6 linked regions of the Homo sapiens genome follow. The protein of the gene in region 2 interacts with the protein of the main gene of each other region in a pairwise test. Each region holds a gene or a part of one and is shown on either strand. Other genes may lie near its edges. The genes, in order: FARSB, MSRA, ARID2, WDR44, SDHB and CCNI.

What was found.
Region 1: the proteins of MSRA (region 2) and FARSB interact in a two-hybrid assay, tested with the Homo sapiens proteins (one large-scale study listed by BioGRID).
Region 3: the proteins of MSRA (region 2) and ARID2 interact in a two-hybrid assay, tested with the Homo sapiens proteins (one large-scale study listed by BioGRID).
Region 4: the proteins of MSRA (region 2) and WDR44 interact in a two-hybrid assay, tested with the Homo sapiens proteins (one large-scale study listed by BioGRID).
Region 5: the proteins of MSRA (region 2) and SDHB interact in a two-hybrid assay, tested with the Homo sapiens proteins (one large-scale study listed by BioGRID).
Region 6: the proteins of MSRA (region 2) and CCNI interact in a two-hybrid assay, tested with the Homo sapiens proteins (one large-scale study listed by BioGRID).

Annotation. Positions count from the first base shown.
Region 1 is NC_000002.12:222,616,997-222,622,563, forward strand, and holds part of FARSB (phenylalanine--tRNA ligase beta subunit), read right to left. Parts: intron 2,742-5,567; coding exon 2,649-2,741; intron 1-2,648.
Region 2 is NC_000008.11:10,421,292-10,424,791, forward strand, and holds part of MSRA (mitochondrial peptide methionine sulfoxide reductase isoform a precursor), read left to right. Parts: intron 1-3,500. UniProt on the Homo sapiens protein: Has an important function as a repair enzyme for proteins that have been inactivated by oxidation. Catalyzes the reversible oxidation-reduction of methionine sulfoxide in proteins to methionine.
Region 3 is NC_000012.12:45,904,206-45,909,772, reverse strand, and holds the end of ARID2 (AT-rich interactive domain-containing protein 2), read right to left. Parts: intron 4,840-5,567; coding exon 4,695-4,839; 3' UTR 1,736-4,694; downstream 1-1,735. UniProt on the Homo sapiens protein: Involved in transcriptional activation and repression of select genes by chromatin remodeling (alteration of DNA-nucleosome topology). Required for the stability of the SWI/SNF chromatin remodeling complex SWI/SNF-B (PBAF).
Region 4 is NC_000023.11:118,446,182-118,451,604, reverse strand, and holds the end of WDR44 (WD repeat-containing protein 44), read right to left. Parts: intron 2,713-5,423; coding exon 2,618-2,712; 3' UTR 1,644-2,617; downstream 1-1,643. UniProt on the Homo sapiens protein: Downstream effector for Rab11 which regulates Rab11 intracellular membrane trafficking functions such as endocytic recycling, intracellular ciliogenesis and protein export.
Region 5 is NC_000001.11:17,017,318-17,021,790, forward strand, and holds the end of SDHB (succinate dehydrogenase [ubiquinone] iron-sulfur subunit, mitochondrial isoform 1 precursor), read right to left. Parts: intron 1,642-4,473; coding exon 1,564-1,641; 3' UTR 1,405-1,563; downstream 1-1,404. UniProt on the Homo sapiens protein: Iron-sulfur protein (IP) subunit of the succinate dehydrogenase complex (mitochondrial respiratory chain complex II), responsible for transferring electrons from succinate to ubiquinone (coenzyme Q).
Region 6 is NC_000004.12:77,051,032-77,056,598, forward strand, and holds part of CCNI (cyclin-I), read right to left. Parts: intron 5,293-5,567; coding exon 5,218-5,292; intron 5,072-5,217; coding exon 4,931-5,071; intron 4,350-4,930; coding exon 4,119-4,349; intron 1-4,118.

The sequences.
Region 1 (5,567 bases), on a different chromosome or scaffold from region 2:
TTTTTTTTTTTTTTTGAGACGGAGTCTCGCTCTGTCGCCCAGGTCGGACTGCGGACTGCAGTGGCGCAATCTCGGCTCACTGCAAGCTCCGCTTCCCGGGTTCACGCCATTCTCCTGCCTCAGCCTCCCGAGTAGCTGGGACTACAGGCGCCCGCCACCGCGCCCGGCTAATTTTTTGTATTTTTAGTAGAGACGGGGTTTCACCTTGTTAGCCAGGATGGTCTCGATCTCCTGACCTCATGATCCACCCGCCTCGGCCTCCCAAGAAAGATTGATTCTTAAGTGTGCTAAGCCACAGCTATTTATAGTGACATTTAATGCATTTCTGATTATTTTCCTTCCACTTATATAAAATAGAAAAGACAGGATGTAAATCCTGAAGAACATAACAGTTACCACATCTTAAGAAATCTATCAAGCTTCACTAGGGGAATACAAGGCGAAGAGAGAGGTGGGGAGCAAGAGCTGAAAAACTACCTATTGGGTACTATGCTCACTACTGGGTGACGGGTTCAGTCACACTCCAAACCTCAACATCATGCAATATACCTTTGTAATTAGACCCACGCATGTACTAACTGAATCTAAAATAAAAGTTGACAAAAGGCCAAGCGAGGTGGCTCACACTTGTCATCCCAGCACTCTGGGAGGCCATGGTGGGTGGATCACTTGAGGCCGGGAGTTCGAGACCAGCCTGTCCAACATGGTAAAACCCCATCTCTATTAAAGTACAAAAATTAGCAAGGTATGGTAGCACACACCTGTAATCCCAGCTACTCGGGAGGCTGGGGCACAAGAATCGCTTGAACCCAAGAGGCGGAGGTTGCAGTGAGCCAAGATCAGGACACTGCACTTCAGCCTGGGCAAGAGAGCGAAGCTCTGTCTCAAAAAATAAATAAAAATAAAATAAAGTTTTTTAAAAAAGTAATCAAGCTAGATAAGTAAAACTGGGAGAAAAAGGTACATTTCGAATAAGCAAAAATCCATTAAGATTTACTGAAAAATCATTCTATGCAAATGAATTTGAATACCTCTTATTAAAAGGAACACCATGGGCAAACTTTAAAAGCAATAGGAAACTAGACCTCAGAAAATAAAATATAACAACTCATTACTACAATCCTTCCAAAATTAGTATAAGGATTCTTCAAAGTTCTGACCCTAAGTATAGATAAAGAATTCATATACTTGATATATATTACCAATTAGTTCTTTAATTAGTCTAGCTCTAATCTACAACATTAGCAGGTGGTTCTATAGATAAACTTTAGAATTTTTAAATTTAGTTTTAAACACTTTTAGAACTTTTAGAATTCTTTTTAGAACTAACCCAGTCCCTTATTTTTGTAGAAGTAAAAACCAAAATCCAAAGAAACTATTTCAAATCAGAATTCAGATATTATTTATAATAGCATTAACCTTCTTTAAAATATAACCTTCCAGTTCTAAGATTCCCCTTGATTCTAGAAGAAGACATGATTTTCTCTAAAATCTAGGTTAAAAAACATACAGACTTGCATATGCAAGAGAAACAGCACAAGAGCTTATCAGTATAAAAGAGAACTATTTAAAGTTATTAATAAGCAAAGATGTTATAATCTTAAAATGCCCTCCCTTTATAGTTAATATCCTAGTCTATAACACAAATCACTTAATACTCAATATTAAAGCAGTATCATTCTCATTTAAATATTCCTAACCTCTAAATGAAACTGCCAATAAACTTAGACAATTACAATAAAAGACATAAGCAGCACAGTCAAGAACTGATATAATGGGCAATTTCAAAGTGAATGACTTACGAAGGAACTGGGAACAGGTTTTGATTCATTTATTACAAATGAATGGAAAAGAGATGAAACCTGGCTAGGTGCTCATGCCTGTAATCCCAGCACTTTGGGAGGCTGAGGTCACTTTGCGGATCACTTGAGATCAGGAGTTCAGAACCAGCCTCGCCAACATGGTGAAACCCCGTCTCTACTAAAAATACAAAAAATTAGCCGGGCGTAGTGGCGGGCGCCTGTAGTCCCAGCTACTTGGGAGGCTGAGGCAGGAGAATGGCGTGAACCCGGGAGGCGGAGCTTGCAGTGAGCCGAGATCCCGCCACTGCACTCCAGCCTGGGCGACAGAGCGAGACTCTGTCTCAAAAAAAAAAAAAATTTAGCCAAGCATCGTGGCATGCACCTGTAATCCCAACTACTTGGGAGGCTGAGGCAGCAGAATCGCTTGAACCCAGGAGGCAGAGGTTGCAGTGAGCCGAGATCGTGCCACTGCACTCCAGCCTGAGCAACAGGGCAAGACTCTGTCCCAAAAAATAAAAATTAAAAAAAAAAAAAAAAAATGAAATCTGAAAATAGTATTAAAAAATCAATTATGAAATGGAAAGTTCAGACAAGAGAGATTGGGCCAGATAATACAAAGCAAGTAAGAACCCAGTATGAAGTTAATCAAGAAGATATTATTTTTAAAAGTGTAAAGAATTTTTGGCAGCAAAGCACGTAATAACCAACTATAAACTTACCCAAGAAGATATTATTAAAAAGCTCTAAGATTTCACCATCTCAGGTATAATAACTGAAGAGACTTTTCCTAACTCATGTACTACCTCTAGGTTTTTACATGAATTCTCACCTACTTAAAATTCTTACCTGAAATTCAGCTGTTTTAGGATTACTTATGTGGACTGCCTTTGTTGCAGAGATATCCACACCTAGTTTATCAGCAATATCTTCTTGGGAGCACTGTGAAGTACACACAAAACAGATTAATATGGAAAAGCAATTACTTAAGTTTAAAATAAAAAGTAATGCTGTAAGTCAACTTCTAAGAGCAATTTATATTCTCTACACATATCAGCAAGTTAAGAATAGGCCTGGTGTGAGCTGAAGTAAATGTAATAATAATAATAATAAAAAACAAACAAAAAAAGAATAAGCTAACAATAAATACACATCAATCTCAGGCCCATAGCAGATGGAATTTAACATTAATACTTCTTTCACAATGAGTCCTAGCCATCATACAGAGCTAAAGTAAATTTTTCACATGGAGATGGTATAAACTGTACTCGGGCCCTTCCTAAGCTAGTTTCCCATTTACCTTTCCAATCTAATCTCCCATGATGCCCTAGCCATTCCCTAAACCTTATGTTTCCCTACCTTACCTGAAATGTCCTCCCAGCCTCACCTGCTACCATTCCCTAAGGCTGACTTAAATGACCTCTCTTCCATAATATTCCTAATGACTCTAGTCAGAAACTTTCTCTCCCTCCTTGGTATTTCATGACTTTCCATTTTGACTACCATTATAACCCTTGCTAAATCCATACTGACTTGTGGCAGAACAGTAGGACTGACAACAGAATTCAAGTGACTGGAACTCTGCCCAGTGTTCTTTACTGTATCACTTAACTTCTGTGCACATGCCTGAAACTCATAACAAATAAACTGCTGAGTACCCACCAATCGAAGAGAAAGATGCTTGCCACCCTCAGAAACCAGCATTGTAGGCAGAAGTTATGAAATTAAAAACTCACTGACGATTAGATACATCAAGTCTAATAATAAATGATATAATGAGATAATGCAAGTATGGTGCCTGGCACAGAGTAAGCACTCAAAAAATACCAACAATGATGATAACTGACAAATCATTACTAAGGATAAATTATTATCATGTATATTAATGCTAGCTTTTTGAAAAAGCATTTAAAACGTAACACAAAAACTGATGTACCATCAGATTATTGTACTATTGTCCAATGTTAGGCAATATTGTTCATTATGCTGTTCTACAACTAGTTTTCAAAGGCTAGTTGGCCTGTATTTCACTTATTAAAACAAAATGATACACATCAACTGAAATGGTAAAAAGAATTCATTTCATGTCAATGTCAGTTCTAGTGATTCTTGCCATGCTTTCTTGAGAAAGATCCTGAAGCCACATCCAGCCATAGCAGAAAACAGCTCCCGGATCTGCTACAGCTGCTGAGATGGAGAATGGTGACATGCACACTGGGGATAAGCGTTTTCCCCACAGCATAAAGAAGTTTTACAGCAAGACTTAGGTATAATGTGACTGATTAATTATGAAATGCAACTGACATGAAGCAATCTATTCTCAAATGAAACTAGTCCTCTCTGTGTAAAAGAAAAACACTCTGCAGACACATGGCAACGCAGCTGTGTATCTGAGTGAACTTGTATTTTATCATGGCAATGGATAATAAGGGATAGTGACAAGAGGCAATTTAAATTAAGCTACCCTGAAGTGGCAGTAGTTAGTACACAGTAAGAAACTTTTTTTTGTTTGAGACAGAGTCTCACCCTGTCGCCCACACTGGAGTTCAGTGGTGCAATCTCGGCTTGCTGCAACCTCCACCACACCCGACTAATTTTTGTATTTTTAGTAGAGATGGGGTTTTGCCATGTTGGCCACACTGGTCTCGAACTTGTAGCCTCAAGTGATCCGCCCGCCTCGGCCTCCCAAAGTGCTGGGATTACAGGCATGAGCCACCATGCCTGCCAGGAACTTTTTTAATGTTAATATTTATGTGTTTATTTTAATGTGTTAGAAAAATACAACAAGTAAATGAACCTTATAGTTTTTACAGATATTATTCCTATAACAAGGCTGAAGTACATAAGCCAACTTAAAAGTGAGCCAATTTAAAAGAAAATATTACAACTACTATGCAGATATAGCAAAAATCAATATGATGAAGTGTGAATTATTTACACTTAGAAAGTCAGAGACTAGGCTTAAAAAAATGGCTGTTACTCTTGTGCAAAACTGGATTTAACAACATAGACCATCTTTGCTCAGCGATGCTTAGGCTTGCCTATAAACATCTTTATAAACATCTTTAATGTTGAAATTCCTACAGGAAAATTTAGTACAAATCTGAAACCCTCTAGGAGCTCACTCCTTTCTCTTCCCCCCAGTGATAAACATTGAATGTATTAAAGTGACTTTGGACAGCTAAACAGACTGTTTCTAACATCCCTGGTGTGACAGTTCAGTCACAGGCCTTGGATGCAGACAGGCATGGGCGGGAATCCCTGATCCACAGCCATGGCGTAGGACAAGTTACTTAAATTAACTGCTGTGAAAGACAGGAATGCCCACTTCACAGGAGTATACTGAGAAGAAATGGAATCATGTACACAAAGCCCTTGGCACAGGGTAAACATTCCCTGCAGAGCAGCCACTAGTCAAGACTCGGCCTCTGTGCTCCTTCGAAGACACATGAGGCTCTAAGGTCACAAAATCAAACTGGCAATGGATATTGTAATAAGTATAAAGTATAAGTATAAAAAGGATAAAGTAATAAGTAACTTTTTTCAAACTGGCACCACTAATATAAAAGGGCAGGGAAAAATGCATACCCAAGTTTTAACAGCAGTTGTTTCTGGGGAGGAAAAGAGGATTCGAAGTGGGGAAAAGAACTGTTATGGTTTAATCTACATGGTTAAAGTATGAGTCCTTTAAAATAAGATGTATTCCTGTGACACTCATATGTTTTAAAAAATAAAAATATATTTTTCAATGTTATTTTTGGTACTTCA
Region 2 (3,500 bases):
AAACAGGAATAAGAAGCCTACATTTTAGTCAATGGAAGGTTCACGTGAATAGAGGGTGGAAGCCCTTTGGAAACACTGTTGTTCTGGACAAACACAGGGTCCTGGTCTCCACTCTGGGCTCTGGGTCTCAATGCCTTTCTAACCTTGCCCACTGGTGCCCACTGCCACCTGTGCTGCCAGGAGCCATCCTGCATTTCCCAGGGTGGTATGAGAGCGTGTCACCTCCATGTAATAGGCTGAGACACTCGGGCACTTGGAGAATCTCGGTGATCCTAATCGTAAGCTTGTTAGCAGGCTGCAGTCAGCAGAATGATCACATGTTCATTACATTTATTACCAGAAAGGCTCTTTACTGGCCGCCCTAGAAGGACGGATGGGACCTGCTGTGCCCGGCTGGCACGCCTTCCATAAGGAGTGACCCGGCTGCTTTTCGTGCATCTGTGGTGTTCCTATGAGTCGCTGGAGCTGGAGACCGAGCTGAGGTGGATGAGGCCTAGGGGGCTGGGGGCTCCATCACAACTTACACATGCCTACCCGCCTTCCTGCCCCAGAGATCTGCTGCTCAGCCATAGAAATGGGGATTCCATGGGGGAATGTGGAAATGGGGGCTACTTAAGGAGGGCAGGATAGGCAGGCTAGCTTTCACCCCTGGGTGGGGATTTTTGGGAAATGGAGCCAGTACTCTGCAGTAGTTAAAACACGCCAGGCAGGCTGTGTCGTGGCTCACACCTGTAATCCCAGCACTTTGGGAGGCCAAGATGCGAGGATCGTTTGAGGCCAGGAATTTGAGACCAGCGTGGACAACATATAGGGAGACACTGTCTCTATAAAAAAATTAAAATTAGCCAGGTATGGTGGTGTACGCACTTGTAGGCCCTGCTTTTCTGGAGGGGCTGAGGTACAAGGATCGCTTGAGCCCAGAAGGTAGGGCCTGCCATCAACCATGGTTGCACCAGTGTACTCCAGCCTGGGTGGCAGAGCAAGACCCTGTCTCAGCAACAGAAAAGCCAGGCAGGGCATGGTGCACTTTCTGTGCCCTCTCTGCATTCCTCGTCCTAGCACAGTGAACTAGGTAAGGGGCCCATTTCACAGGCAGAAAAGCTGAGTCCAAGGAGAAAATGACAACAGAAGGAAGGCACAGGAGGCTTCCTGGGGTCATTGAGGAAGAGTCTGTGAGAAAAACACAAATGACCAATTCTGTTAGGTGACCTTCCAGAAATTCCCTGGGCCAGGTGTCGCCCCACATGTGTTACTGTATGCAGTCCTGCTGACTTCTTTCTAAAAGGTCAGCAAGACACACACACAAAAAAATGCCACAAGCAAAAGTCAAGATACTTGGAGTCAGTAAGAGAGAGAAAAGTTGCCGGGAGCTAGGCTCAGGTCATTCCTCCCCTGAAGTGGAACGTGGTAGGGGCATGTGAGACTGGCTGTCAGTACAGCCCTGGGGGTACCTGGCCCCACAGGCTGCAGTAGGGAGCTGGGCCGGGGCTACCCTATGCAGAGGCAGGCCCTGGGGTTGAGCAGCAAGAGCACCTCTTTCCAGGCTTTTGAACCAATCTAGGCAGTTACTTCAACCAGGCAAGTCCGTCATGACCTGAACTCATTCTCCATCCCCAAAAGTGGCCCCATAGGGCCTGGAGGATGAGCACAGTCCCCTGAGGGCACCTGGGTCTTGAGGCCGGAGCGCCACTGCCCTGCCTCCCTCTGTCCAGCACAGTGTTTCTGGTGACATCCCACTGTCACGGGTGCAGCCTCCTTATTGGAAGGCGCCTAAAGATTCAGTAGGTGATGTGGGCAGTTGTCTCGGCAGTCACGAATGGTCAGCCGTTTTTATGGGTCCTCCCCATGGACGACGGGAGAGGGGAGAGGCCACCAGGCTGCGCATTACCTGGGTCCCCACCCTCTTCCTCCTCTCCAGCTCTCCTGACAGTTCTCTCCTGCCTGCTCCTGAGGGCCAATGAGAGGCAGTAAAACCGAGATCCGGATCTAAGGCGTTCCATCTGCTCCAATTCGTTAAGGAAAAGTAGATGACCACAAGCATTGGTGTGTCAGCCATGATCAGTAACACGCTACCTAGGAACCCCTGCCCCATCACTGACTGGGACACCTGGTGTGTGTTGATAGTGCAGGAAGGGGGCTCAGGAGACTGGCATGCACCCATGCCGGCACCTGCATAGCTTGGCCCCGGTGCCAGGTTGACCAGTGGACTTGGGGTGGGGCGGGGAGGGGGGGTGGCAGCAGAGGAACCATCTGTAACCCAGAGGTGACAGTCTTCGTCCCCTATCTCCCCCTGCTCCTGCACCACCCCACTCTCCCTGCAGAAGAGCAAATGGGCTTTTTCAGGAGCCGTGGATGACAGAGAGGCATTCTTCTGTGCTCCCTGCAAGGACACAGCACCACAGGGCCACCATCTAAAGACTGAACCTGCCCATGGAACTGGCCAGGACTCTGTGACACGGAAAGTGGCTGCCTGAGTCCGTCGTCCCCTTCTCCCTCCCACCATTCCTTCCCAGGCCCTAGAGGAGGTGCTGGGTCTTGAGGTAGCAACAGGGACCCAGGTGGAATCCAGAAGCAGAGAGAATCTCCAGGAGATCCCAAGAATCCATAGTTCATTTTCTCATTCATTCATTCATTCATTCATTAATTGCACACAGTGCACAAAGCCCCGAGATGAGGGAGAGACACAGACAGTCCTGGGTAGTGGAAGTGGCTTGGAGAACAGAAGGGTTTTTGTAATGCAGCGTCATCAGCGCTGTCGGGCATTGCGATGCCACGCGAACATAGTATGTGGAGCAGCTTCTGCCTTCAAGAAGCGGGCAGGTTTCATAGAGGTGGGGACATTTGGTCTGGGTCCTCAGAGATGGATAGGAGTTCCTGCGATGGAAAAGAGGAAAGGACATTCCTTGGAGATCGTGTGCAAGGGAATGGAACATTCGGGAAACAGGTAAAAATGAACAACACCAAAGAAAATAGTGCGCAGAGGGGAAGGAAAGGCTGAAAAGGTAGAAGATGGTGAGGGAGACGATGCTGAGGGGTGAATCAGGGAGAAGGGCCTGGGGTGGAGCGGGAATGGGGAGAAGGCCCGGGGTGGAGTGGGATGGAGAGAAGGACCCGGAATGGAATAGGATCGGGGAGAAGGGCCTGGGGTGGAGCAGGAATGGGGAGAAGGCCCGGGGTGGAGTGGGACGGGAAGAAGGACTCGGGATGGAATAGGATCGGGGAGAAGGGCCTGGGGTGGAGTGGGATGGGGAGAAGGACTCGGGATAGAGTGGGATTCGGGAGAAGGGCCTGGGGTGGAGAGGGACAGGGAGAAGGGGCCAGGGTGGAGTGGGATCAGGGAGAAGGGTCTGCGGCGGAGCTAAACTGGACGGGGAGAAGGGCCCGGGGTGGGTTGGATCGGAGAGAAAGGCCTGGGGTGTTCTGATTCGGGGCCAGGGAGAGGCCCCCTCCTGGGTTAGGGGAGGTGCTGGGGCAGGCCCAGATCTCCCAGGCTCCCTGGT
Region 3 (5,567 bases), on a different chromosome or scaffold from region 2:
TTTATAATTTCCTTATGGCACATGTTTTTATCTTTTATCGTATTGGGTATTATTTGTAAGTTTGGGCTACCTTCAGAGCAGGATGTCTCCGCCTTCCAAAGCAGCAGCATAGGTACTCCAACAGTATTGTGCATTGAAGGTGATTTAAAGGTGTACGCTGGGGAAAATCCTATTAACATCATACTATTGTTAAGGAGTATGACTCTTTCCAAAGGAGTCAGCAGATGGTTGTTTGAACTAGGCACCAGACGGATAGTTGATTAGAAACTGTGGTTTCAACTTACTATAAATATTTGTCTTAGAAATGGCCCTTTGTCAAGGGTATTTCCAGAAAATTTTTCTGGCTGTATAAAGTGGTGCCAAGTTAATGAATGAAATACTTGGGAAATCTGAAGAATTATGGAAAATCTTAAAAAGACAAAATGCAAAGAAAGAAAATACTAGGAACAATGAGGCAAATACAAACGAAAAGATCCACACCAAAATTAGGGGTACATAGTGTTTATACTAGCAGACTCCTGGCCTTGAGTCTGACTCTCTGAGGAAAGAATTCTCCCAATTACTCTTCATAACTAGGCTTCAGAGGAGCTGGATAGTTTAACCACTTACTTGCTGTTAAGAACCTGGTCAAGGTACTTACTCATCTTAACCCTCTTTTCCCCACTTGTGAAATATTAGCTATTACATTGGGCTGTTGTGAAGGCTGAAACAATACATGTAAAATGCTTAGCACAGTGCCTGACAGAGTAGTGTTCAGCAAAGTATTAGTGACTAGTTTAAAACAGCACCTTAAATTTTGGAAACAATTTAAATGTCCATCGATATGGGGTCTAGTTAAATATAGTATACCCATACAATGGAAAACTATATTGTATAGCTGTAAGAAGGATGAGAAAGCTATGTACCAATATGGAATAAACTTAAAATATTAAAATTTCAAGAAAGTACGGCATATTATTTATGGTATGACATATTTTTGTGTAAAAAAGAGAAAATATTGAATTCACTTGTATGTAATCAACACCAGAGATGTACTCAAGAAATGTGAACAGTGGTTATCTGGTTGGGGGACACGGGTGGTGAAGCAGATGGGAATGAGGCTTTTCATATAATTTAACTTTTTGATTAAGTTACTTTCTAAAGGCAGTTTATGTTTTAAATAAATGTATACAATGTGGGTTGTATCTCAGACTAAAATCCACAGGAGCCAGGACTTGACTTAATAATAGCCTTTTCTTTTAATATTTAAATGTAGTCTTATTAATCAAAGTAAATGGATCTACTTAAGTATATGCCAGTGTGTCTTAGTGTTTCTTATCCACACACAAGGCAATCCTGGACTTAATTTTTACCAATAGGAAATGAGGCTATATAATTGAAATGAAAGAGTTACAAATACCAGTGTAGTAATGTAATTAGACAGTGGTACTGTCTTCATTTGTTTTGTTGCCTCTGGAGAAGGCTAGTGTAGTTGTCGTATGACTGACTGCTGTATGAGTCTGAGAAGAGTCAAGCAGTATGAAAGTGATCGGCTAAAATTTCCTAATAGATACTGGATTTTGTTCTCATTTAACTTACTATTTGGTAACAGTGACAGTGCCAGGTGTCCCACGTGGTTAACCCCATAGCTCCACTTCTGCTCTTTAGCAGCTTCTGCTTTGCATCATGTTTCCTCTGTTTGGTATTTAACAGCAGTGGTTAAGATCAGGACAGAAGTCACTTATCCAAAACATTCTCATTTTAAAAATCATTTTATTGTCATTTCATGGTTAAAAAAACATACATGACATGACTATAAAGTAATGAGACGAGTTCTCAGGTGTGGGTTGGATTACTGAGTCTCATTAATATATAGTCACAATCCTGACTTGAGCTTGGAAGAAAAATATGCCTTCGCTATATGATTATCAATTTTGTTACTTAAAATTTATTGAGTGCCAACAGAGCACTAGGCACATATATAACACAGAATTATACAGTCTCTATGTTGTAGACTATATTATTTACATAGATTTCTCAAAGATAACATTAAAGCATGTATTTACAGAACTTTAGACAAAAATAACAATACTGTAAATCAGCAAGTTTCTGTCTAGCAAGGAGCACCTTTTCATGAATGAGAGGGTTTTGCAGAACTTATTGTGCAAAAGCACTTTAATTCCATTACACAGCAAGTCCATATTATTATATAGTTCTATAAAGCTATAAGAAGAAAAACCTAAGTGGGAAGCCATGATCAGTTTCATTAGGTCAAACGCATTTAGGAAATTCTCTGCTGAGACTGAAGCTTAAAAGGCTACAGTCATATTTACATATTATAGCAGAAAAGCTAGAACTACAGCATGCAATTCAATGAGGTGGAAGAATGGTGAATATGAAAACCATTTTTCTAAACCTGCAGTTTGTTCTCTTTTCTATTAATTTAATTACCACTGCAGTTTCTGATTTTGAGAAGACATTATCTTTCAAATAAACGTTGTTGCACAAATTTACTTTTTAAAAGAGATTTTTGGATAAGTACGGTGAATAGAAAATTCCCCATATGATGTCAACTACCAGGTGCTTGTAAGTTTGAGGGCTCTGAAGGCCATCCTAGGGATACCCACATGATTTCAGCGGTGTCTGTTGGGCAGTGCCAGTCTTGGAAGGTGGGCCAAGCATAAATTCCACAACCTTATAACTAATATTAGATGAAGTTTCTCAAACATTCCTTTGAGACATGGCAGGACAGCGCCAGGGATCCTCCTTCAGGAAGAAACTAGATTTTACATTGGTACTAATTCAATCAAAATATTTAAAACATTTTTAATATGGAAACTGAGGCTTTTTCACTCTAAGAATCTGCCTCCAAATTCAAGCTGAAGATTTGGATACACTGTGATTCTGAATAAACAGTCAAGAAACACAACATCAAACAATAAAAGCTTTTAGCCAAATGTACAGTATCCAGTAAAAAAAGGCATATTGAGCTTTAACTGCATCAATCATTTGCTGTTCTCTACATTTGCTCTGCATTATAACAAGATGAAAAATAAATACTTGGTTAATCTGCTTATTTCATGCAAATTTGTCATGTAAAGGACCTCTCTTATTTGTTCTCTATTTAATATGTTATCAATCAACATATAATCAAATAGGTAGGTGACCGTTATACCTTGCCTTCAGCTGAATTTAGAATTCTCTCTATATTTTTAAGATGTCTTAAGCATACTCAGAAATGAAGGACTCAAGAAAATGTTCAGTCTTTTATTTAAAAACTATAAACAGTCACCAAAGTAAATAAAGCCATTCTATAACATAAACTGTTAGGTCTATATTTTTTACTGCACATCCTAAGGACACAGCAGAAATGGTGGTTGGGAGGCCTTCCACATTTTTGGATGCTAATAGAACAGGCAATAGGCAGTTATAAATGGATACATTTCACGCTGGGGGAAAAAAGACAATTTAAGGAAGTGAGCAGTTTCTGAGCAGGAATGTGGTACAGTATTAAGAATGGAAGAATAATACAATAAAATTCCACACTATATTAAGATAGAAAAAGTAGTGAAGAAAATATCATACCTGCACATAATGCATATATAACACAGGAGAAAACCTGTATAAAATTCCATGTATTTAAACCAATTTACAAATACAAAAAATTCTGTCCAAGCTCTGAGCTTGTACACGACAAACGTTTACAGTGGATACATGTTAAGGAAAACCAAAAAATACCTTCAAATAGTTTTTCTTCTAAAAAATGACATGAGATATATTATTCCATACTCTTTCAGCCAGCAAAATGAGTTCTACAAGGTGTATAATACAAAAAAAAAAAGAAAAAAAAAAAGAAAAAAGAAAAAAAAATCACAGTTCCACAAAACTGTTTTGACTTTACAGCATCAGTACCTTTGCAGAAGTATTTACACAAATTTAAAGAACATTCATCCACTGCATAGAATATATCACAATTACTTACAATTGACAGGAAAGTCTAGAAAACTTTAGAACCTACCAATAATGCTTCTAGGACACCACAGAATGTATTTCCAGTGGCTGCAGTGGCATGAAAGGTATTCATTCTATTCACAAATATTTACAAGATCTATTCAGACTGGTAAATTTTTATGATAATAAATAAGTGAAAATATATTGGCTCAAGTAAGAAAACCAAGCTACTGATTTCTAAACAAAACACACGATCCATAGCTAGATATTGGTGGCCCCCTCTGAGATCGGGGGTATAGGTGTGCTGAAACTTTTTTAAATTATTCAAACCAGCTTAAACGGTTTTGTAAATATAAAAATGTGCTCCTTTTTGGATATAGATAAAAATATTTAATGCTTCTATTTCATCTGCTCATGTAGGTTTTACAATATTCCATGTATATTCCAATGTGGATGGTACTGAATTCTGATCATACCAGTTTCCATCAGGATTTATCAGATCTGAAACATCCTGCAGATAAGCTGGTTGACAATCCCACAGCAGTTCTTTTTTTTTTTTCCTTTTTCTTTTTAGATTTTTTTAAACAGAGAACAAAGGGATTCACTCAGAGATCAGAATACGAAGCTTCCTCTCAGCATCATGGGAGGAGATAAAATAATTCATTCTATGGTCTTTGTTCCATTAAGACTTGGTGCTTTCTTCAGTAACAGTATGTGAAATGTGGCTGACTTTGAGTCCCCCACTGTGTAAGTGGAATTATTTTTCACTGCAGCATTTCTGAGTCTTTTTCTTGTTCCTTACTCTGAACTGTAAAATTAAGTTCATAAAGGCATTTGGCAAGGGTGGAGGAAGCTTCCATGTTACTAATGGCTAGCACTGATAAGTTATTTTCATGTCTCTTTAACAATCTGCAAAAAAACATATAGAAGATTGTCAGTCTCCAAGGTCACAGCGATGACTCTTTATCATGAATTTTGCAAGTTTAAAAACTAAAATAGAAACAATACATAGCTCCACACCCCGTAAATGTTAATATAGTATTGCAGGAAGAGAGGGAAGCATCTGGGAAACAACTAGAAGGATAAACTGAGGCTGACTATTACTGTTTGCCTTTTCTGCATAGTACCTTTTTTTTTTTTTTTTTTTTTTTTTGAGAAGGAGTCTCACTCTATTGCCAGGCTGGAGTGTAATGGCGCAATCTTAGCTCACTGCAACCTCCACCTCCCGGGTTCAAGTGATTCTCCTGCCTCAGCCTCCCAAGTAGCTGGGACAACAGGCGTGTGCCACCACGCCCAGCTAATTTTTGTATTTTTAGTAGAGACGGGGTTTCACCATGTTGGCCAGGACGGTCTCGATCTCTTGACCTTGTGATCCACCCGCCTTGGCCTCCCAAAGTGCTGGGATTACAGGCGTGAGCCACCGCGCCCAGCCTCTCCATAGTACCTTTCTAAATATGGAAGGCTGCACAGCAAAATTCTTTTTCAATCTTCATTCATGTTTCTAGAAAATTTAGAAAATGGTGTCAGAAAACAGCTGGAGAGGAACAAAATGGTTGCTTTTAAGGGATGACATGAAATTAAAATTATATTGTAGGTATAATTAAAGCTTCTTAGTCTTCATTAAGTGAAACCAAGCC
Region 4 (5,423 bases), on a different chromosome or scaffold from region 2:
AGCCTGACCAACATGGAGAAACCCCATCTCTACTAAAAATACAAAATTAGCTGGGCATGGTGGCGCATACCTGTAATCCCAGCTACTTGGGAGGCTGAGGCAGGAGAATCGCTTGAACCCAGGAGGCGGAGGTTGTGGTGAGCCGAGATCGTGCCATTACACCCCAGCCTGGGCAACAAGAGCAAAATTCCATCTCAAAAAGAAAGCGTTTCCATATATCGTCTTTTTTTTTTTTTTTGGTCTGAGAGAGTACTCACGGATTTGCGAGAGGCAGCAAGAAATGTACATCTGTTGAGTATACCTACTGGTTAGGCACCAAGCTTTACACATACATGATTTCTTAGCAAATCTTTGCAATTTAAGTTAGGTATTCCCATATTACAGATAAGGAAGTAGTAGTAATGTAGGATAAATAACTTGCCCAAGGAATGTGCTAACGGGAAGGAAGCAAATCCAAGTTTACCTGACTCTAGAACCTGTGATCTTTTTTTTTTTAATAATACCATATCACTCGTTATAGAGAATATCTAAAACTCATTTTAAAGAGAAATAGTGTTCTTTTTTTCTATATATTTTGATGCTACCTTTTAAATTCAGTGTATTCATATAGCAATAACAAGTGTCAGTATTATGCTTTTTTTTTTTTGAGACAGAGTTTTGCTCTTGTTGCCCAGGCTGGAGTGCAATGGTGCGATCTTGGCTCATCGCAACCTCCGCCTCCTGGGTCCAAGCGATTATCCTGCCTCAGCCTCCTGAGTAGCTGGGATTACAGGTGCCCGCCACCACGCCCAGCTAATTTTTTGTATTCTTAGTAGAGATGGGGTTTCACCATGTTGGCCAGGCTGGTCTTGAACTCCTGACCTCAGGTGATCTTGGCCTCCCAAAGTGCTGGGGTTATAGGCATGAGCCACCACGCCCGGCCAGTATTATGCTTTTAAGCTTGCATCCCAACTCGTTTTGTCTTTTTGGTCAAGTAACCACATAAAACCTATCACGAGATAGTCATATAATAATACCCTGATTATCTGCAGTTAAAACAATCAACACCACAGCCGACTACAAGTTCTCAGGCAGAAGTTAGTGAAAGCCAAGCTGCCTCAAAGAGCTGAAGACATCAAGTTTTAAAAAGAAACACTGGATCAATCACAATGCCACCCAGACCTTGAGATTAAAGAAACTGTGCCTGGTTTTTAGAAAGCCAATGGCATAACAATTCAGTCAGGGAGAGTACAGGAGAGTGAGGAAGCCAAAGCAACCAGAGAGATGAGGAGAGGGGAGGGGGAAGGGTAGAGGGAGAAAGCACAGCACTGGCAAGAAGAAAGCAACAAATAATATGTAATTTACTAGAAAGCCTAGAACACTCTAAGACCGTGCTAATCAACAAGGATATGTCCGTGGCTCCCCAACTTCTCACTTACATGCTGAAAACAAATGCAGTAAAGAACATATAAGCATATAGATGAATTCTTAGCACTGTTCAATTTAAAGCTAGAATTAAAAAAATTTTAAGGCATGTAACTAATGCATTATAATTTAGGGATCTAAAATCTGGTCTTCTGTTGCTAAAATTTAAATGATTAAAACAAGAGTTTATTTTTCTTGCATTCCTTGATTTACTGAAGTCAATTAAAAATAAAGTCATGTTTAAACAAGTGTTGGAGACCAACTTTTAATAATACATATTTAATTTTCAGAAACATATGCTAACCATCAACAACATGATCAGGGTTTCATTGCCCCAGATGTTATTTCATTGGTACATTATATTGATATTTACAAAGGCTTTCAAATTCAACAACACAAAACAAAACAGCTTAATTTTTAAAAACTACAATGCTTTAAAAAAATGTAAACAGTTTAATTTTTACATTATTGTAAAAAAGAAGACTCACTCCTTAATGTGGCTTAATTTTTTTTTAAGTGAGCAAAGCCTGGTGCTCATGGATAAAGAATGAAAATAATTCTTTACATAGAAACATTGTGCTCCAGTGTGGCAAAGAAAAAAAAATTATATGTACACATATAAAGAAAAGAATCTTAAGCCCACAATTTAGACCACAAAAAAATCTTGTCCCCAAATTGAGAAATTTATAAAAACCATTTACATATGGTTGTTGACCTACTGGAAACCTATATACCATTTTCAAAACAATAACTCAGTCAAAAGATACCACTTTTATTAAAAATGAAATTTTGTGCAAAAAAAAAATTGTTTAAGCTAGAAACAAGACTATCCCCCCTAGTAAGAGGCCAAAAGAGCCACTGAAATAATTTAACTCTGTTAGATTTAATGCATGTAACCAAAAGGCACATACATGTGATTAATATATTAATATCTTTTCATGCAGAAACTTGTGCATGTTCATAATTATACAACGAAAACACAAACATAACAAAACATAAAGCCTAATGTTTGGCAATGTTATTCTAGCCATATTCCTTTCTACTCTATCAGCCCAGGGTTTCCTAGATCATTAACACTGCCTCTCAAAAAATATATTATATTTGAACAACTTTCAATAAAAATTAAAAAAGTATGTTAGCCTGGAACACTATTTTTTCAGTTTTGATACATATAGAAACTTACTGATATGTTTATTTTAAATGCCATTTCAAATTAAGATACATTTTTTCTTTTATTAACAAACACTTTGATTGCTCCAGTGAAGTCAGCAGAGAGAAGAACTTCTGTGTTATCTGTCTTCATAATACCTTAAAAGTATAAAAAATAGTTTTAAGTTGATTTTTAAAGGAATATGAAGCCTGCTGCCACAATTATCACATGCCCATGACCCTCCAGCTTCAGGGGAGAAGATCATCTCCCCACCTTTTCAGTCTCCTTTTCTGGCTGGCTCCTGTAATTCTTTCATTCTGCTGAATCTCTCCTCTGCTCTGAGGCTCACTTTCACTTACCTTGTCTTAGCTGGTCTTTCCCTGGCTTGAGGATATTACAGTCTCTTGGGGCCTGGATGCTTGGACCTATTCCTAGGCAGCCTAGGCATCTAAGTCATCTAATGCTTCATTGCATGGCAAGAAGCTAGTGTGTCATTCAGCCCCAGGACTGGAGTGCTGGCAGAATCGGATCAGCTGGGCAAGTCTGTTGCTAACAGGGGTGTCTAGCGAGGTTGCCAGTAAGGTTTATTGTATAGCAGACATACTGAAACTGCCATGAAATGAAGTACACACGTTTGCTGTGTGAATGCTGACAGCACCTTTTGCCATATGGTCCTTACTGAAAAGCTATATAACTATGCTGAATGGCATAAATGCTTACCTCTTACATTTGCCAGTTGCATAAAAGCACTTAATAAAAAAATTCAGTGTTAACTAACTCTATTATACATAGGTGAAAACTGAGATTTTAATTTGAGATTTAAAAAAGAAGAAAATAATCCAAACTTTAATTGGAAAGTTGTGGACAGGATGAGTCACACAAAATGGTTTCACTTAGATGTGCTAAAAACATATCCTAAGCCTTTGAACATTCCTTTACCACCCTTTTGGCATATCTCACAGCAGTGCTGTGCAGTAGTAGCAGCAGCAAAGAACTTAGGAATATGAGAAAGGATAGAGAAGAAAATAATTCACCATACATATAAAATGCTTTGTAAGACACAATAATAATGAAAATGATAACAATAATGCCTACTACATGCCAGGCATTTTGCTAGGCACTTTTACACATACAAGTATATATATATATATATATATATATATATATATATATATTTTAGATAGAGTCTCACTCTGTTGCACAGGCTGGAATGCAGTGGCACCATCATAGCTTTCTTGTAACCTCATACTCCTGGGCTCAAAGGATCCTTCCACCTCAGCCTCCCTACAGGCATGCGCCACTGTGCCCGACTAATTATTTAATTTTTTGTGAAGACAGGGTCTTGCTATGTTGTCCAGGCTGGTCTCAAACTCCTGGTCTCAAGTGATCCTCCTGCCTTGGCCTCCCAAAATGTTGGGGTTACAGGCATGAGCCACCATGCCCAGCCTATACATGTCATATCTAATTCTTATTGAAACTCTATAAACTAGGTTATCATCATTATTTTACACATAAGGAAAATTGAGGCTTGAATTGCCAAACACGTCAGGAACAAAGAGAGAGGGGAATTGAATATATTTTGTGATCCCACATTTTGGGTTTAAGAGAGCTTATTCTTAGACTACACCTACATGGGTACAAAATGACAAACACAAATCTGAGTACAATCCACTAAAATTTGTGCCTCTTAAAAAAGGACCCAGTTAGTTAACTGAACCTTGTTAATGTGGTATATTTTTGAGAAGTTAAAAAAAACCCTGTACTTTTTACTTTTCCTCAAATTGTTTTAAAAGCTAGAATTTCCTGTGGAATATGCAGGGGAAGTATATGGAATGTAAAAAGGTAGCACTGGGGAAAAAAGAAAAGAAAAGAAAAAAAGGCCAGGTATGATGTCTCATGCCTGTAATCCCAGTACTTTGGCCAAAGTAGGACTAACCTTTTTGAGGCTAGAAGTTCGAGACCAGCCTGGGCAACATAACGAGAACTCATTGCTAGCAAAAAGAAAAAAAAAAAAAAAATTAGCCAGGCATGGTAGTACGTGTAGTCCTAGCTACTCGGGATGCTGAGGCAGGAAGATTGCTTGAGCACAGGAGTTCAACGTTGCAGTGAGCTATGATTGTACCACTGCACTCTAGCCAGGGCAACAGAGCGACACCATGTCATTCATTCATTCATTCATTCATAAGTTAAAAAAAAAAAGAAAAAACGTAAATGACTTAAGTTAGAAGACAGAAGCTGGATGTGATTCTGAGAAGGAAAGAAAAAGAAAACAGACAGCAGTTAAACAGGCATTTAGTAAAGGTTTAATCATTCTAACTTGGTTTATTTTTGTATCTTGTACTGAAAGAAATGCTAGACTGAAGTTCATCTTTGTTATCAAAATTTTTCTTCACAGACAGAAGGAAAAGTGTCATGAGTGGAGTAGATAGTCCAAATAATACTACAAAAAAATTACTTGAGATTAAAGTACTTGATAACTTTTTACCATTCAAATACTTTAGAAGCACTCTTTGTACACTGTATCTATTCCTGTGGCTTTATGACCTGTTTGTAATCTGTAGCATGAGACAATACAGTCAATAAACTATTATGCAATCGATTTAAAAATTAAAAAAGAATCATATATATATTTTTTGAGTTGGGTGTCCTTCTATGTTGCCCGGGCTGGTCTTCTATGTTGCCCGGGCTCAAGACCTCCTGCCTCAGCCTCCCAAATACCCGGGATTACAGGTACATACCACAACGCCTGCCATATATATATATTTTTAGACAGAGTCTTGCTGTGTCACCCAGACTGGAGTACAGTGGTGCAATCTCAGCCCACTGAAAACTCCACCTTCCCGAGTTCAAGCACTTCTCCTGCCTCAGC
Region 5 (4,473 bases), on a different chromosome or scaffold from region 2:
GAGGCGGAGTGCAGTTTTTTTTTTGGGACTCCGTCTCAAAAAAAAAAAAAAAATAGCTGCTGGCAGACTATAGGATACCCCTTTATTTTTAAAATCTTTTTTGGTATGTTAAGAAAAAAAAGAGACAGGGTCTCACTATGTTGGCCAGGTTGATCTTGAAGTCCTGGCCTCAAGCAATCCTCCCACCTTGGCTTCCCAAAAGTGCTAGAAGCCACTGTTCCAGGCTTTTTTTTTTTTTTTTTTTAAAGGAATGGGGTCTCACTATGTTGCCCAGGCTGGAGCGCAGTAACTATTCACAGGCGCAATCATGGCAAACCATAGCCCCGACCTCTTGGGCTCACGTGATGCTCCCACCCCAGCCTCCTGAGTAGCTGGATTAGGGGCACACGCCACAGCTCCTGGCTCTATGGTACCTTACTTTTGAAGGGAGAAAGTTTTATATATGCTGCATAACTGTAATAACGTAGAGTGTGGAAGGAAATGTCTAAGCTATCAACGGGATGAGTTTGGAGGAGCTTCCACTTTTACTTTCCCCCTTTCTCCTTTTTTGCATTGCTTTTTTGTTTTGTGGAGACAGGGTCTCACTCTGTTGCTCACACTGGAGTGCAGCGGTGTGATCTCGGTCACCGCAACCTCCACCTCCCAGGCTCAAGTGATTCTCCTGCCTCAGCCTCCCAAGTAGCTGGGATTACAGGCACGCACACCCACTGCCCAGCTAATTTTTGTATTTTTAGTAGAGACGGGGTTTCACCACGTTGGCCAGGCTGGTCTTGAACTCCTCACCTCAAATGATCCTCCCGCCTCAGCCTCCCAAAGTGCTGGGATTACAGGCGTGAGCCACCACGCCCGGCTGTGCAGTGAGCATGCCAGCCAAGGCAGCAGTGCTGTGGAGTTGATGTTTGCAGTGAGAGGCCCCACGAGGTCATTTGTGGAACTAACTGGATTCACAACTGACCAGGGTCATTGCTCTGTGCTGGAGGAATCTCAAACCTGGCCTCACCGACGTATCCAAAGACTTACCAAGATTTGGTTTTCAGTAATTCTGGTACTGAAAACTATAGAAACTGGGAAGATACAGAACACTAACACTAACTGAGTGTTCAGAATAAGTGCCAGGCATTCTCATACCAGATGAATGAAGTAGGCACAATTATGGATCCCATCTTACAGATGGGCGAATGGAGCAGCAAAGAGGTGAAGGAACTTGTCCAAGGTTGTCTAGCTGGTGAGTGGCAAAGCTGGGAACAAGCTGCAGGCCCTGCTGATGTCAGTTCCACGGCTCATCACCTCCTTCCAGCTAGGGTACCCCCACCCCCGCTCAGCTCTGAAGCCCTGTCCATCTCTCCAAGGACAAGGACTCCTGGCACCTTCACATTCCCCTGCGGCAAGTAAAGGAACAGGTTCTTTTTTTTTTGTTAATAAAGTAGAATAACATTTATTTCTTAAAATTTTTATTATACATGCTGTATTCATGGAAAACCAAGATCTTTAAAGGAACTCAAATTAGATATAAATTATGTTCAGCTCTGAGCTGGTTATAAATCATGTTTAGCATGGAAACAGTTAAACTGAAGCTTTCTTCTCCTTATAGGTTGCCATCATTTTCTTGATCTCTGCAATAGCTTTCCCTGGATTCAGACCCTTGAAAAAAGAGAAAAGAATCAATAACAAATGATAACTGAAACTGAAAGGGAAAACCCACAATCTTGGGTGAAACTCCTTCCTCAGCTGGTTCAGTGTCCAAGCAAGGTGAATGCAAATCAAGTCCCTCAAAACCATAGGGGTTGGGCTAAGGGCTCTCTTCTGTCTACCTTTTTTAACATTTGAAGATGGTCAGCTCCCTCTGGCAAGAGCTCTGCCACGTTGAATTCCTTCTTGTGTGGCTCACTCTAACAGGTAAACAGGCCCAGGGCAGAGGTGCACTCTCTGACTGCTCAAAGACACTCAGGGTAGTGTCTCTTCTAGGACTACAGGCCAATGTCAAAATCAGCCAGACATCTCTAAATCTTTTACATCATCATTATTAAATAGGCAGCAGCAGAAATCAGCATATACCAGCTCTCAAAAGTATGTGGAAGAAACTACCCTCTCTATTAACCCTTTGTAAAACCATGATGATTTCAACTGGCCAATACCATTGGTATTAGCTGCAGTTTGCCCCTACAGCTGTTAACATCTGCTTTGCAGGAGGCACAATAATTAAACCCACTGAATGCCAGCTTCATTGAAGTAGAAAGTAGGAAGTACTTTACCAAGTACTTGCTTTTACCAAGCAAGTACTTGGTAAAATGAGACAAGTACTCATCTGACGTTAGTGAAGGTTCCCCTCATTTTAGAAGGATAAGTCTACCCCCCTAAAAAAGTGTTGTGGAAAGAAAGAAGAAAAGGAAAGAAAGAAAAGAGATCTTGAGAGAAGAAGAGAAAGAAAAAATATATATTTTTTTGACAGGGTCTTGCTCTGTCATCCAGGCTGAAGTGTGATCATAGTTCACTGTGGCCTGGAACACCTGGCTCAAGTGATCCTCCGGCCTCAGCCTCTCAAGTAACTGAAACTACAGGTGCGTGCCACCACACCTGGCTAATTAAAAAAAATTTTGTTTGTAGAGATGGGATCTCACTATGTTGTCCAGGCTGGTCAAAAAGACACTCTTCATATACCAACATGGGATAATCTCCAAAATATAGTGGGTGAAAAAATACAGATAAATGTGATATAAGAAAGACAGAAGAGGACACATATGCATTTGTGTGCAGCATAAAACACCTCTGAAGTTCACACAAGAATCTGACTTCTAGGGAGGTGGCTGGGTGGAGTGGGAGGGAGAATTTTCACTGTATATCCTTCTGAATCTGGATCTACCTGTGTATTTCCGGTCCCCACAGGGTCAGTAAGGGTGTTTAGACTTAGAAGGTTGGTACATACCCAATCCATGCAGGAAGAAAGAGCACTGGATGGGGAGGCAGACGGCCTAACTCTAGTCCTACCTTCCCACTGACCTGACAGTGATCTGGGGCGAGTCACTCCCCTCCCCACCTGGGGCTCAATTTCCCCATCTGTATAAGGGGATTAAACTTGATGGTTTTCAAGTCCCTTCCAGTTTCATGATCGGCCTATGTCTATGTCTCAGTCCCAACTTCCAGCCCTGTTTTACAGAAGGGAGGGCAAGGCACAGAGAACCTGTTCTTGGCTGTCTCAGTTGTCTGCTGCACCCATCCCCTCCATGCACAGGTTTGTGACCAGGAATGCACCTTAGAGTCACTCGCAGAGCTTCTGAAGAAACACACAGCCAGGCCCCACCACTGAAGATGCTATCTCTGTCTCAAACAAGCCCAGTACTCATGTTTTTTTAAAAAATAACATAAGGTGACATTTATTGGGTGCTTACTATGTGCCAGGCACTGTTCCAAGCACTTTTATAGCATAACTTGCCTCAGAGGTCAGTAGCTATTCACAGGCACAATCATGGTAAACCACAGTCCTGGGGACAGGACCCAGATGGAAGCCCAGGCAATAGGGAGCTGAAGCCTGTGGGCTCCCCCAGCGAGGCCACTGGAAACACAGAGGGTTTCCAGGCAAAAAATAAGTGAATTCTACAGCTTGGATTTCATGTTTTCAAACACACAGTGTGATCTTTTTTTACGGCTAACTGGCCACCCTACAGTTTTCCACCTTGCCGCCCACTGACTCACTGCAACTTTTGAGTGAAATCACCCACAGTCTTTGCTCGGAGGGCAGCCGTGTTCTGAACCACACAGCCCTAGCCCTTCCCTGCCCACTGGGCAAGGCTGACTGGACCAGGGCTGACACCTGCTATGGTTTGAATGTGTCCCCAAAAGCTCATGTGTTGAAAACCTAATCCCCAATGCAACAGTATTGAGAGGTGGGACCTTTAAGAAGTGATTAGATTATGAAGGCTCTGCCCTCACAAATGGATTGCCATTATCATAGGAGTAAGTTCCTGATAAAAGGATGAGTTTGGATTAGTCAGGTGTGGTGGTGTGTGCCTGTAGTCCCAGCTACTCAGGAGGTAGGAGGATCACTTAAGGCCAGCAGTTCCAGGCTGCAGTGAGCTATGATTGCGCCACTGCACCCCAGCCTGGGCAACACAGTGAGACCCTGTCTTTTAAAAAAAACAGATGAGAGGGGCCGGTCGCGGTGGCTCACGCCTGTAATCCCAGCACTTTGGGAGGCCAAGGTGGGTGGATCACCTGAGGTCGGGAGTTCGAGACCAGCCTGACCAACATAGAGAAACCCTATCTCTACTAAAAATACAAAATTAGCCAGGCATGAGTGGTGCCTGCCTGTAATCCCAGCTACTCGGGAGGCGAATGCAGGAGAATCACTTGAACCTGGGAGGCGGAGGTTGTGGTGAGCTGAGATCGATCGTGCCATTGCACTCCAGCCTGGGCAACAAGAGCGAAACTCTGTCTCCAAAAAAAAAAAAGGCTGAGCTTGGGCTCCCTTTCTCTTGC
Region 6 (5,567 bases), on a different chromosome or scaffold from region 2:
ATTGTCCTGTATACTTTAAATCATCCCTAGATTACTTATAATACCTAACAGAATGCCTACACATCACTTCATCTGTGTAGATTCAATGTAGTACTCAGCATGCCACAAATTCCAGGTTTTTTTGGAACTCTGTGAAATTTCTTCCTGAATATTTTCAATTCACGGTTGGTTGAATCCAGATGCCAAACCCATGGATATGGAGAGCCAACTGTACCTCGTTTAATGAAATGTTCTTTAGCAAATGAATGATATTTATTGGCCTAAAAAGGTAAAGGTACCACAAATATTCTAATGCCTTGGTCACTGGGCATAATAAATGCCATGGCAGAATCAATACTATGGCAGAATCCTAAAAAGACATGTATTTAAGTAAGAGGAAGACTATGTCACTATAATCTTTCTGTGTGAAAAAACGAAGTAAATAGAGTTATATTTTAGCGGTGGGAGACTGACAAGAAATGATAGAGCTAAAAGACCTTAGAAATTATTCAAAACAAAACCATCCATATGAACTCCACTTCCACCCAAGTCCCAAGTAAGTCTTTTCTCCAAAATAACATCAAAATAAATTCCTTCTAATCTAGTACAATCTGAATTTGTTCTATAAGACACCAAAATAATTTGTTCCTTCTTGAGATCCAGTGGAAGAAACAAAACAAGCACATATACTGGAACTACCAAAACTCTCGACACCAGACAAGTACTCTAATGGAGTTGATAAAAAGGACTTAAATGAACTCTAATTATAAGGTGTCAAGAGAATATGTATTATTTTTTATAACAATAAATGACATAAATGGTAGGTCCAGATGGATCCAGGTTTGATGAACAGCATGAAGCACTGAGGAACCTGCTGGAATAGTCTGACCACAGCCACCTTCAAAAAGAACCAGGAGACTGGTGGGGAGGGGTCTGTTTTTTTGTTTTTTTTTTTTTAAATTTGCTTCTTTTTACTTTTAGATGGTACATGTGCAGGTTTATTAACTAGATATATATTGCATGATGCTGAGGTTTGGAGTACAAGTGATCCTGTCAACCAGGTAGTGAGCACAGTACCCAACAGTTTTTCAACCCTTGCTCCCCTCCCTCCCTCCCCCTTCTAGTAGTCCCCAGTTTCTACTGTTGCCATCTTTATGTCCGCGTGTACCCAACGTTTAGCTCCCACTTGTGAGAACGTGTGGTATTTGGTTTTCTGTTCCTGCGTTAATTCACTCAGGATAATGGCCTCCAGCTGCATCCATGTTGCTGCAAAGGACATGATTTTGTTCTGTTTTATGGCTGCACCTACTCTAGTTTTAAACTAGAACATGTACTTTGACTACTGCCCAGCTAGGAACTACAAAGACCACCACACTAATCTAGGTAGAGTTAACAGCCTGAGTTTATAAGGCTAAGGAGAGAAAGAGGTTTAGCCATCCCAGAATGGTGACCAACAGGTGGCGCAAGAGCTTAAGGGGGTGTAGTGGGAGGTTAACAGGGACAAAAGGAAGATTGCCTTTCAAACCTGGGAACACTCACCATACTTTGTCTCAAAGTGGGGGCTCAGGCAGAACTAGTGAGAGTGGCCTCCTCACAGCACGGTATGTCTGTGATGGACTCTCCTCAAACCAAGACACTGGGAATCATGTCGCAAATAATTTTGGCATGATCTCATCAATCTGATGCAAGACTTTCCTATATTAAAACCAGAAAACTAGGAAGAAATCTGATATTGTGGCCTTGTCACACGTCTAAACACAAAGATATTAGACCTGGTGTTCCCTACCTGAACACAGCAAACTTAGCAAAAACAGAAATGAGTCCTAAAGAACTAGGAGCCATCCATGTTTGGACCACATGGGTTGGTGTTAGAGAACTGCTAGAACAAGTCCCAAAAGTCTCTACCAAGATTTATGACCTTCCTTTTCTTCACTAACTTCCCCACTGCAATTATATACTACATGGGGCATATCTCTTAAAAAGAAAAAAAATTCACTGTATTTCCAGTTTTCAAACTACGTCCAAAGACTACCTACATAATATAATCTAAACCTACACTACATAGGTAGATTTCTAGCTATGGAAGGGAAAACGCTATGTTGAGTGGAGATCTGCCCTTAAACACAAGTATAGCTCCGTTCTTCTATTCTATATTCTGGGATTGTGTGTGTACAAGATTTTCTTTGGGGAAGGGGGACTGGGAAAGGGTTCCACTTCTAAAACAAATTATGAAAACCACTGAACTAGAATTTTTAAGGTTTGTGTGGTATGAAAAAAAGCATTGGTTCTTTTAAATCACTACTAAGTAGCTCTACACGGCTCTAAGAAAGTCTCCAGTTCCCTACACCAGAGCTATAAAATAAAGGAGGTGAATGAAATAACTTCTCCAAAGATTCTGTCAAATCCCAGGTTTGCAATACTCCTTCAGCTAAGAAGAAAAAAAAGTTTCAGTGAATACTCTCTTCCTCTAGCACCAGAAAACTTACAAAAGAGTATCAGATTTTCCAGTGTTTTTCACTAGGAAAACATGATCTCAAAGCTACAGAATACACATGCTATTTACAACATTATTATTTATGCTTCAAAATCTGTCCTCTGACACTAACACTTTAAAGCAATCTTTTTCTGTACTATCTTGAGAGTAAGCACAGAGAATAAGTCAGAAGGCATTTAGAGAGATGTCATTTGTTCCAATAAAAATAATGTAATGTAGGAGGTTTTCTATTAAGCCTATTCCTCTACTTCACAGTCTAATGTGAGTGATTAATATTCAACTTTTCTTTCTAACACTCCAGGGTGAGCAAAGTAAATTTTCTGTGTCATATTATTCATTTAAATGGTGGTTTATCATAATTTCTAAAAATTCTAAGTAGCAACTACCTCCTAGGATTTATTCTCATTACAGCATTTAATTATTTTAATCTAAGACAATTAAGATATCCCTTCAAAACAAAAAACAGCCCATGTTACACTACATAGGTAGATCTCTAGCTAACATACTGCTCTGATCATCAACCTTTTTATGAAAAGACTGAGCTCCCCTCTGCTCACAAACTAGAGCCTAAAATTCTTGGAAGCACTGACATACTTGTTTAAAAAAAAAATTATTTTTTTGCCTGGTTCATTTTCTTCAGACATACTTCTTAAAATGTTTGCTATAAGATCAATTATAACTTTCTTAGAAAAACACCAAATTCAACTATTATGTTTTTCTTTTATAATAATCTAAATTTTTAGCTCAATAACTGCAGTTCTTTGCTACAATTAGTTTATTGCAAAATGTTAAGCTTAGAATTTCACAATCTTCTAAGTAAAATCCAATAAAACAAATCAGAATAACTACTGTTAAATAAGAATAAATAGCCATATAAAGGGAAAGTAGGTTCATGAGTCTTTTATGGATTCAGGTGGCAGGAAAATGGTCTGCAGCAGATCTAAACTCGGTAAGTTCTATTTGGTGACATGAATAGAACCAGTAAGCCTTCTCTCAAAGTAGTTGCTAACATACAGCACTCTCACCAACTTTCCATTTGAATGAGAATTTTCTCCACTGAACCTTTACATTTTACTTAGGTAGTTGATAATTTATCAACCTATACATTTTATAATAATCTGTAGATACAAGTTACAAACTAATCTTAGGTAATAATGGAACTGCCAGGGAAAAACCTCTTTCAGAAAAGTGGCTTCTACCTGCCAGTTTGGTATAAATACTTCACTTACTAGCCAACAATAAATTATTTGCTTGTCTAAAAAGCAACTTATTCTAATTTTTGTTCCTGACATCCGTTATAAAATGAGTGAAGTAAAGAAGTACTACATTAAAACCTACAGATGTAGCTAGGAAGTTTCTTTACAAAAAACTAAAGGACAATATGGTATTGACAATCTTATGAACATTTTAGAATTCTTAAAAATAAGAGAAATGGTTAAAAGGAATCTTAAAAATACTATATAAGTTTTATATGAAAAAAAGAGATCACCTAGCCCGTAAATTTAAAATATATACTTTACTCTTGTCTACTCTTAAGAATGGTTTGCCATTACAACATGAGAAATGTCTTTTAGTTTGGTAACTCTATGTATTCCAATAATAGAAAAACTTAAAAAGAACACTATTTAATTAGACTGACACCTACCTGTGCTTTCTGAAGCAGTTCAATTGTAAGAGAAAGCCAATCAGGAATGAGTTTCTCCATTTCCAGACTAACCATGGCCAGAGCAAGCATGGATCCTCTGAATTGCAGAAGTTGGTTGCAGGCCATACAGTGAAGTAGTTGCTTGGTAAGGACTGCCAAATGTTGAGATGGGCTCAATTTGGGCAAACTGAAAAGTAACTGAGGCCTAGTTGACACTGCAATGGCATGGAACTGAAAATCACAAGAACATCATTTTAACTTTATTTAAATATCTGGGAAATTACATATAGAAATTGATGCAACCTATTCAATTTCTTTTTTTTTTTTTTTTGAGACAGAGTCTCACTCTGTTGCCCAGGCTGGAGTGCAGTAGCATGATCTCAACTCACTGCAACATCCGCCTCCTGGATTCAAGCAATTCTCCTGCCTGCCTCAGCATCCTGAGTAGCTGCGATTACAGGCGCCTGCCACCATGCCCGGCTAATTTTTGTATTTTTAGTAGAGACAGGGTTTCACCATGTTGGCCAGGCTGGTCTCAAATTCCTGACCTCAAGTGATCCGCCTGCCTCAGCCTCTCAAAGTGCTGGGATTACAGGCGTGAGCCACCGCGCCCAGCCTAACCTATTCAATTTCTAAGTCTGCGAATTAAGCTTCAGTGATATGACATATATACTAATTTATAATTTTTCCTTGGATATCAAGTTTTCTTTTTCCTATTTCCAGTACAAAATAAATGAGTAGGCAATCTATTTTTTAATTTACTGAAAACTACACACTCAAATAAGAAACTAAAAGACTTCAGGTATATTTACAATATGAAGAAAATCCAATGGTGTGGCTGTGTGAAGATCCCAATTCAACTTATCCAGAATAATTCTCTCCATTCTCAAAATTTCAGATGAGGAACATCCACAGAAACTGTCTCTTGCCAATACCTTTAGTACTGGAATTCTCTATCCAAAGCAAAGGGGAACAGGGACAGGGAGAAAAGGACAGAAAAGAAACTCATTTATGATTTTTGTTTTAGCAAACGAAGCAAGTTAATAAATGTGGAGAGAAATTTTCACGGAAGAAACATTATCTTGAAAGGATTTATTACCTCATCTTCCTCAACAGTCTTGGCAGCTAGGAAAAAACAGCTGATTGCAATACAACTCAAGTATTTTGGATGAGCCTAAAATTTTGAAGAGGGAAAAAGCAACTTTAGTGATTTTTCAAAAACAATTTAACTTTTTGTAACTGTTTTAAAAACCTAGATATGCAGATGAGACAGGTATACACAAAATACTATGGAATTCAATTAATGTGACTGCCACTCATTACTTTTTAGATCAGAGCTAACTTTAAGAACAGGAAAGAAAGTTTATTAAAAAGCTTTAGAGCAGTAATGAAAGGAAGGAAAGTACACTTGCAAGATCAAGTGTGTCTAGAGCTAACTTTTTTTTTTTT